2 linked regions of the Homo sapiens genome follow. The protein of the gene in region 2 interacts with the protein of the main gene of each other region in a biochemical or structural test. Each region holds a gene or a part of one and is shown on either strand. Other genes may lie near its edges.

Region 1 (3,813 bases), on a different chromosome or scaffold from region 2:
GGCGGGGGGTGCACACGGCACAGCCACGGCGGAAACGGTCTGCAGCCCCCAACTGATTAAACACAGTGTTTCCACGTGACCCAGGAACTCCCCTCCCATGTAAACCCCTAAGAGAAGAGAAAACATTTCTATACAAAAACTCAGACACGAATGCTCACAGCAGCACCGCTCACCACAGCCGAAAAAGAGAGAATCCACCCAAATGTCCATCAAGAGAGGAGTGGACACGCCAGGTGAACATGGTCCATCCGTGCGATGACACGAAACGAAATGAAACAAGAAGAGGAATGAAGCCCTCACTGAACCCGAGAACCCTGTGCTCCGCGAAGGAGGCCAGACAGAGGAGGCCACACGTCGTATGACCCTCTTAATATGAAACGCCCAGAACAGGCAAATCCAGATAGACTGGGGGTGGGACGCTGCTCGTCGAGGGCTGCGGGGTGAGGAACGGTGACCGCCTGCTCATGGTACGGGGCTCCTTTTTGGGGTCAGCAGGACATTCTGGATTTAGACAGTGGTGATGGTTGCACACCATTGTGGATATACTAAAAACCACGGAACTGTACGCTTTTAAATGGTAAATTTTGTGGTACATGAATTATACCTTAATAAAGAAAGAATAATCAGAAAAATGCAAGCGCTGTCCAGGCCCGCTAGCAGTGCGGGTTCACTGCTCTGATGCTGGAGGCCCGGCCGACGGCGCTATTCCTGTATTTATTTGCTGATTAAATCTAGTTTTTCTTGCTTTATTTGTTTGTGGAGAAACTCTGGAAAGCCTGGGGCTGTAGAACTGGTGAGAACGTGGTTTTGTTGGGGCCGGAGCCCCGAACCTCACTCACAGCTCCCCCAGTCCCAGCATTCCTATGCAGCCAGGCTGAGTGATTCCAGGGGTCTCTCCTGGCTGCAGGGCAGGCTCCCCGTGGGATCAGAAGGCAGGTTCGGCAGGGCGCTTCCCAGCGGAGTGAACAGGAGGGTGGCCGGTCCCGGCTGCCCTTTCTTAGCTGAACAAGCTGAGGTTCGGAGAGGAAACGGGGTGGGTGCCAGGCCGACCTGGCCCCCACCACACCCCACGCACCCGGCAGGTCCCGGCTGGTCTGGTTCCAACGCCCCGATCACCTGCCTGCCCCCTCCTTCCCGCGCCCCCTCACCCCACTGCCAACGCTGGGTCATTATTGTAAGAACGAACGATCAAGGAAAGACCAGCTGCAATCCTGTCTCGTGCTGATACAGATTAGTCGGCAGCCCACAGTCGGACGAGGCAGCCCCCACCGGGGCAGGAGCTCCATTTCAGGAGGAAAATCTTCATCTGAGCGCTCATTGGCTGGAGGCTTAAAATTCGTCTGCTGTTAACAGCCTCCCGTCCTCGCCTAAGCCGGTTTCAGATGGTATCGTGTTAAAAGAGAAAGGCATTTCTCGGGCCCACAGCCATTTCTCTTTGCAGATCCAAATCGGGTATTAAAGGGGCCTCCCGGGCGGGGTTAGGAGGGCTTGGAGCTGTGTGACCTCAGGCAAGTGCCTCCCTGCTCTGTGCCCAGCCCCTCGCCCGGGAAGCGGGGGTCCCAGCAACGCCGGCATCACGGGCTGGGAATTACACAAAGAAGCCACGGGAGGCAGCTGTCCAGGTAACGAAGGCTGCCCTGCACTTGGAGTGGGGGCTTTCTGGGAGGAAGGAGCGTGAGTCCTTTTCCATTTTAGTAATAATAAAAGACACAAACAGCAAGGAGAAAGCCAGGGTAGCGGACAAACCCAGGAGAGATCCTGCCTCCTCCAGTCACCAGGAAATGGCATCACGGTTGGCCTCCCGGAGAGCGCAGACAGGCAAGAGTGTGGCTCCTGGCAAGGACGAAGATGGCTCCTTCACCCTGCGGCTCAAGCGTCTCCCACCATTCCTTTCGCTGACTGTGTCGGGGCTGACCCAGCAGGAGGAGCGTTTTGCAAGGCGGACGTCTGCCATCTGCCACCTTGGACAGCTGTGCCCTGGACAGCTGCGGGCCCGGCGGACACTGTTACTTAGGGCAGCGGCTCTGGGTGCCCGAACTGGGTCCATCGCTGGAAACGTGTCTCCTGCAACCTGCATTTAAGCTGGACGCAGCACTGGAGAGAGTCCTGAGGACCGCCCTGCCCAGCCCAGGCCACCGTGGCAGGAAAAAAGGCGAAGCGGATGATGGCAAAGCCCTTCTGTCCAGGCTGTGTCGGGCTGAGTGGCTTCCGGAGCTGCTGAGGACCTGGGCCTGGTCCTGGGGGCGCTCACCTTGCAGAAATGCAAAGCTGTGCACGGATGACCTGTGCACCTCTGGGACGTTTGCAACGTGCAGACGGTAACTTACGTGAGAAGTAGGGGAGTGTGTTCTGTGAGCGTTTGGGGCTTAGAAGATGTGGGCTCTGACTGCGGCCCGGCCCCTACACAGCTGTGCGGTGCTGGGGTCCTAATTGCCCTCTCTGAACCTGAGCTCCACAATCCCTACGTGGGGCAGGGGGCTGCCTGGGGCTCAGCCTCCTGCTTCTCCCTCCCAGAGCCCACCTTCCCCGAGCACTGGCCTTGGCCACCTCTCGCCCCCTCACCTTGTTCCTGGCTGATGGGATTTTCCCTTTTCTGATTGACCCCACGGGAGGGTCACTCAGGCCACGGGAGGCCGAGGGGGTGTCTGCAGTGGGCTCAGCCCTCCAATGTGCTCTGGGCTCCAGCAGGGCTTCCGAGACCACCTGGCATCCGTGGTTGGGAGGCCGAGGGGGTGTCTGCAGTGGGCTCAGCCCTCCAATGTGCTCTGGGCTCCAGCAGGGCCTCCGAGATGACCTGGCATCCTTGGTCGGAAGGCCGAGGGGGTGTCTACAGTGGGCTCAGCCCTCTGATGTGCCCTCGGCTCTGGCAGGGCCTCCGAGATGACCTGGCATCCTTGGTCGGGAGGCCGAGGGGGTGTCTACAGTGGGCTCAGCCCTCTGATGTGCCCTCGGCTCCGGCAGGGCCTCCGAGATGACCTGGCATCCTTGGTCGGGAGGCCGAGGGGGTGTCTACAGTGGGCTCAGCCCTCTGATGTGCCCTTGGCTCCGGCAGGGCCTCTGAGGTCACCTGGCATCTGTGGTTGGGAGACACATGCAAAGCAAAGTGGAGCAAACGAATCTGAACAGATTTTGTTCTCTAGGAGAGGAATCCGGGCTCCTGGGCCCCTGCTGCTTGAGAGAAAGTCAAATGCTCACAGAGGCTTCTGGAAGAAATCGGACTGACAGGGCAGCGCGGCTGGAGTGGCAGCAGTGGGGTTCCAGGGGCTGCGTTCAGGGGCGCCTGACAATGCTGGGCCTGGCTGCTCTGGGAGATTCAAGGACTCGTCTGTCCAGGCAGGGACATGGAACTGTTGGGGCCTCTGGTGGCCGAGGAAGTCTTGGATTTCAGGGGAGAAACTTGCGCTGCCCTGGAAAACGCAACTAATATCCAGAACCAGGAGTGGCCAGGGAAGCTGCTGGAGCGCTTAATAAAGTGCTGGCTCCAGGGAGACGTGAGAAGGGATTCCAGCAACGGCACCAAAGGTGGTCGATGGCCGCCTTGCAGCACAGAGCTCAGGGGCACTCCGGTGACCACCGTCCCTGGCCTGCTGAGGACCTGGGGATTCCAAGTGTCAGCCAACATGGGACATAGAGGTGACTTAATTCACCTGCTTGGACTAATAATCAACTCAGTCTTTTTTTTTTTTGAGACGGGGTCTCACTCTGTCACCCAGGCTGGAGTGCAGTGGTGCCCGATCATAGCTCACTGCAGCCTAGACCTGCTGGGCTCAAGCCATCCTCCTGCCTCAGCCTCCTGAGTTGCTGGAATCACAG
Region 2 (4,279 bases):
TCTGTCGCCCAGGCTGGAGTGCAGTGGCGTGGTCTTGGCTCACTGCAGCCCTTGTCTCCTGGGTTCAAGTGATTCTCCTGCCTCAGCCTCCCAAGTAGCTGTGACTACAGGTGCCCACCACCACTCCTGGCTAATTTTTGTATTTTTAGTAGAGATGGGGTTTCACCATGTTGGCCAGGTTGGTCTTGAACTCCTGACTTCGGGTAAGGAAACTACCACATTGGCTGCCAAATGAAGAATGAGTTGGGGAGAGGCGGAGTGGTTGCTGGGAGAACTGTAGATTTTGCTATAGTTTACATGAGACATAATTGGAGCTTGGACAAGGATTGGAGTTTGGACAAGTACAGAGAAAAACAATTGAGAGATACACAGACATAAAATTAGTAAGTTTTGGCAGATTAGAATTTGAGAGGTGAGGGAAAAGATAAATAGTTTGATCCTAGATTTCTGTCTTTAAAAAACTGGATGGATAGTAGTGCCTTTCCTAAAGAAACAGTACTCTAAGAGGTCTAGGTTGTGAAGTGGACACAGATTATGAGTTTAATCATGGGCATGCTAAATTTGAGGTGCTTCTGACACTGCCAAGGGAAAATGTCGAATAGGTAAACAGATAAATAGGTCTATAGCTAAGAGAAGTCTGGCCTAGTGATATGGGATGTTAGGATATAGATGTAATTGAAGCCACGTAAAGGTTAGGATGACCTAAGGAGAAAAGATATGGCTAGGAGGAAACACTGAAAAGGAAATAGTGGATATTTCACCTTTTTTGTGCAGGGTGGGAGGGTACTTTACTGATCTAATTATTTGAAAATTATGATATTTTGTGTGTACTCATTGTTAAAATAAATCTGAATGTTCAAATGAATTTAATACCATAAAATACAAATACTAGATTAAAAAATGTTTTCAGAGCATCACTAAAGGAATTTTTAAAGGGAAAATAAAATATGGCACTCTGTGGAGCTGGGGCTCTACATGTTATCAGTAAATATATGCTTTATCTCAATTTTGGACTTGACTAATAAAGGATTATGAATGTTTAAAAGATATTTTTAAAATATTGGACTTTCTCTTAACCCATTATAGGAAACTCCACGTTAACAAAAAGTTCTTTTTTTCTCATTTACCTTGAAATTTATGATCCAATCCACTCTTAGTAGAGTCATAATCATCGATCAGTTTTCGATTCTTGGTTGAATCAACATCTTCCACATTCAACTTATTATCAAGTGGGGAGCTTCTTATAGATTGTCTTTCTTTCTCAATTTTTTCCTTTTCTGTTATTGCCTTTAGCAGGTTCAAGTTATCAACAAAAGAATAGTTGCTCTGACCTGGCTTGTTTTCTGGAAGAATAGCCCCAAACCCAACACAGCCATTTTAGTTCAGATTCTCATAGCCTACATTATTTAAATTAACATCAATATGATTTCTTTTTACCTGGAGGATATGTTTTTTTAATCTTGTCTTCTTCTGCTTCAGCAATCTGTGAAGCAAACAGGAGATAGACTTGGTTTAAAATCATTGCTCCACTACTTACCAAGTACAAGAGCCAAATGATTTAATCTCCATGGGATTTAATTGTCTTGTTTGTAAAATGTGGATAATTCCTATTTCAGAGCACTGTTATAATAATTAAATGAGATAAAATTAAGGGTAGATGCTCAGTCAGTGTTAATTTCTTTCTCCTATAATATTGTTGAAAGAGAAATCTCTGGTAAATTAGGCAATCTTACAACAGAGTGGATGTGATGCTGAGCTTACTGGGTTATTATATAGTTACTCTATGTATTCATTATACAGAACTCAATGTAAATAACTGCTAGGGCATAGAATTTACCAAAACTAGATTTCCCGTCCTAATTTCTGTCAATTAACTATTAAGTTCCTGATGTTTGTAAATTCAAAATGACCAAAATGTCACAGCATAATTACATTAAATAATAATAACTAAATCAAAATGAAATAGCATTCATAATGTTACTTTTGACCTACCTGTTCATTCAAAGGTCTTTCTGCACTTAATTCTCTATTATGTAGAGATTTGTCTAGAATAAACACATGTGAATATAAATTTAATTGTGCGTTGAAGGACAAAATATGCCTCTTATTAAATAAAATTTTTATAAAAAGGAAAAATATTAGGAGAAATAATTTTGGATGACTATGAAACAAATGCATATTAACAAAGATTATCAAGATTATACAATAATAGTAATTATCAATATTGCCTTGTTTATTATCTTGGTGTATTTCTTGAGCTGACAGAATCACACTTTTTTTTTTTTCTGACCAGAAATTTAACATATAGTTCTAACACTAGGGTTATCAGCTATTCTCAGCTAGAGAGAGCATAATTTGGATTGGTATTATTGGCACACTAAAAGCTCTTTCATCATATACTGCATATATAATGAATAGACTGTCTGAGAAAGGTTGTAAGGCAACTAGAAAACAATCCAAGCCACTTTAGGTGAAAAAGGTTCCCTTCCCTTTTCAAAATAAGATCTTTAAAAACAACCCATATTATTGCTCTATCATTTTAAAAGTGAAGAAAAAAAATCTGTCTTCTGTCTCTAAATTCGAACTGATTTCTCTGTCCGTATTCATGGATATGATTTGATCAGAAAACGCGTCAGGGTGATTTACAGCTCACGTATTATGCCAAACTTTACCTTTTCGTGGCGAAATAAAAGGAAGGTAGGAAGAAGAAAAGTGTTCACATACCTTGGCTTCCTCCAGGTTTGGGGAAAGCTTGAATCGGGAGCACTAACACCAGAATCCAAGTGCCGGTCCCGAGGAACCCCATTCTTCCACGCTCGGCTTGGGTCACAGCCCGGCGCTGGGCTCCTGGAGCTGTAGCTTTTGTTATGAATGAAAAGGAGGAGTAAAAACAGGAAGAGCCAGGAGGGTGGGTGTGGGGCGGGAGAGGGGCCGGGACTGGGCGGCTGCAGGATCTCTGACACTCGACGGTCAAGGGATAAGCAGGGTTGGGGCGCGCGGGAGTCAAGTCTCCAGGTAGAGGGGAGCGCTGTCCGCCCTGTGGGTGCTGAAGTTCCTGTGACGCGGAGACTGCGCGCCAGGGCGTAGCTTTACTCTCGCTCCCTCCTGCAGAGGAAGTGAGGAAGGAAGCGCATGCTCCATGCACGCCAGAGGCGGGAGGGGATGGCGTCGGTGACTCCAACGCTACTCCAATCCCCCGGGAATGGAACAAAGGAGGGGCGACCGGCCAGCTGGTGTATTTTCTGTGCTGCAGTCCTAGGGTGCTCCTGGGCTCAGGGTCAGCTGGCTTGTCCTAAGCGTGACAGAATTGTCCCAACCTCTCAAGTAAATGTTACTTCAAGGGCCAAATGCCTTCTCTGCCTGTGCACCTGTCAAGGAGATTTAGATAACCTTGTGCGAGGAGTTCTGCTTCGGGATTCTTCTTTTGGGATATCTGCTCCAGAATCCCTTCCTTCCATTCACCTCCTGTACCCAAAAGGTAGATATAATTATAATCTCTTTAGAAAAGCCCTGCCTTTTGTGGTCTGTGTTGACGTATCAAGCATCCCTCAGCTCTACCGAGGCTTTTGAATTGGGAAATTCAAGGAACAGTCTTCCAAATAGTCAGATTGCTGCAATACACTCTCACTCTCTGATGCTGAAACACAACAACAACAGAAACAGTCCTGAGTAGACGAGCAGCAATGGCAAATTCTCCTTTCCCCACCAAGTGGAACCTCCCCCACTTTACACACACACACCACACAACTAAATTAGAAAAAAGAAGCTGCATTTCTGTAAAATCTTGCCCAGAATTTAATTATGCCCAAAGACCTGGCTGTTCCAGGGGGTCCTTCAAGAGAGGGGATAGTCATGAAAAGCATTTTTCATCTTTACTAAGTCAGGGAGGTGCTTCCTATGTTCTGAGAATATTCCCAGAAGCCTAAGGTTATTGTATACAAGGAACTATCAAAAGACTTTAAATGATGAAAACAAGCAACATTAATGTGAGCAGGATGCTGAGTAAGCTCTTTAGTCTCTGATTTTTAAACAGAACTTGGACCTTTTCCTCTGGACTGCGGCATGCTGGGAACCAGTCTGAATAATGACCAAAGAGAAGGATTCAGCACAATCAGGCCTTTGATTTCTGCACCCTCCTTTTCAAGGAGGAAGTTATTCAAGTACCTAAAAACAAACAAACAACCAAGCTGACAAACAAATCTCCCTTGCTCCGGAGGTTTTTGAGTTTGGAAGTCACTCAAATACTTCCTTTGAGGATCTAAAGAGTATTCTAAATCTA

What was found.
Region 1: of the proteins of SCG3 (region 2) and FAM20C, one has a biochemical effect on the other in vitro, tested with the Homo sapiens proteins (one large-scale study listed by IntAct).

Annotation. Positions count from the first base shown.
Region 1 is NC_000007.14:251,393-255,205, reverse strand, and holds part of FAM20C (extracellular serine/threonine protein kinase FAM20C precursor), read right to left. Parts: intron 3,075-3,813; exon of another isoform or gene 2,563-3,074; intron 1-2,562. UniProt on the Homo sapiens protein: Golgi serine/threonine protein kinase that phosphorylates secretory pathway proteins within Ser-x-Glu/pSer motifs and plays a key role in biomineralization of bones and teeth.
Region 2 is NC_000015.10:51,680,283-51,684,561, reverse strand, and holds the start of SCG3 (secretogranin-3 isoform 1 precursor), read right to left. Parts: upstream 3,060-4,279; 5' UTR 2,807-3,059; coding exon 2,725-2,806; intron 2,046-2,724; coding exon 1,993-2,045; intron 1,484-1,992; coding exon 1,438-1,483; intron 1,344-1,437; coding exon 1,128-1,343; intron 1-1,127. UniProt on the Homo sapiens protein: Member of the granin protein family that regulates the biogenesis of secretory granules. Acts as a sorting receptor for intragranular proteins including chromogranin A/CHGA. May also play a role in angiogenesis.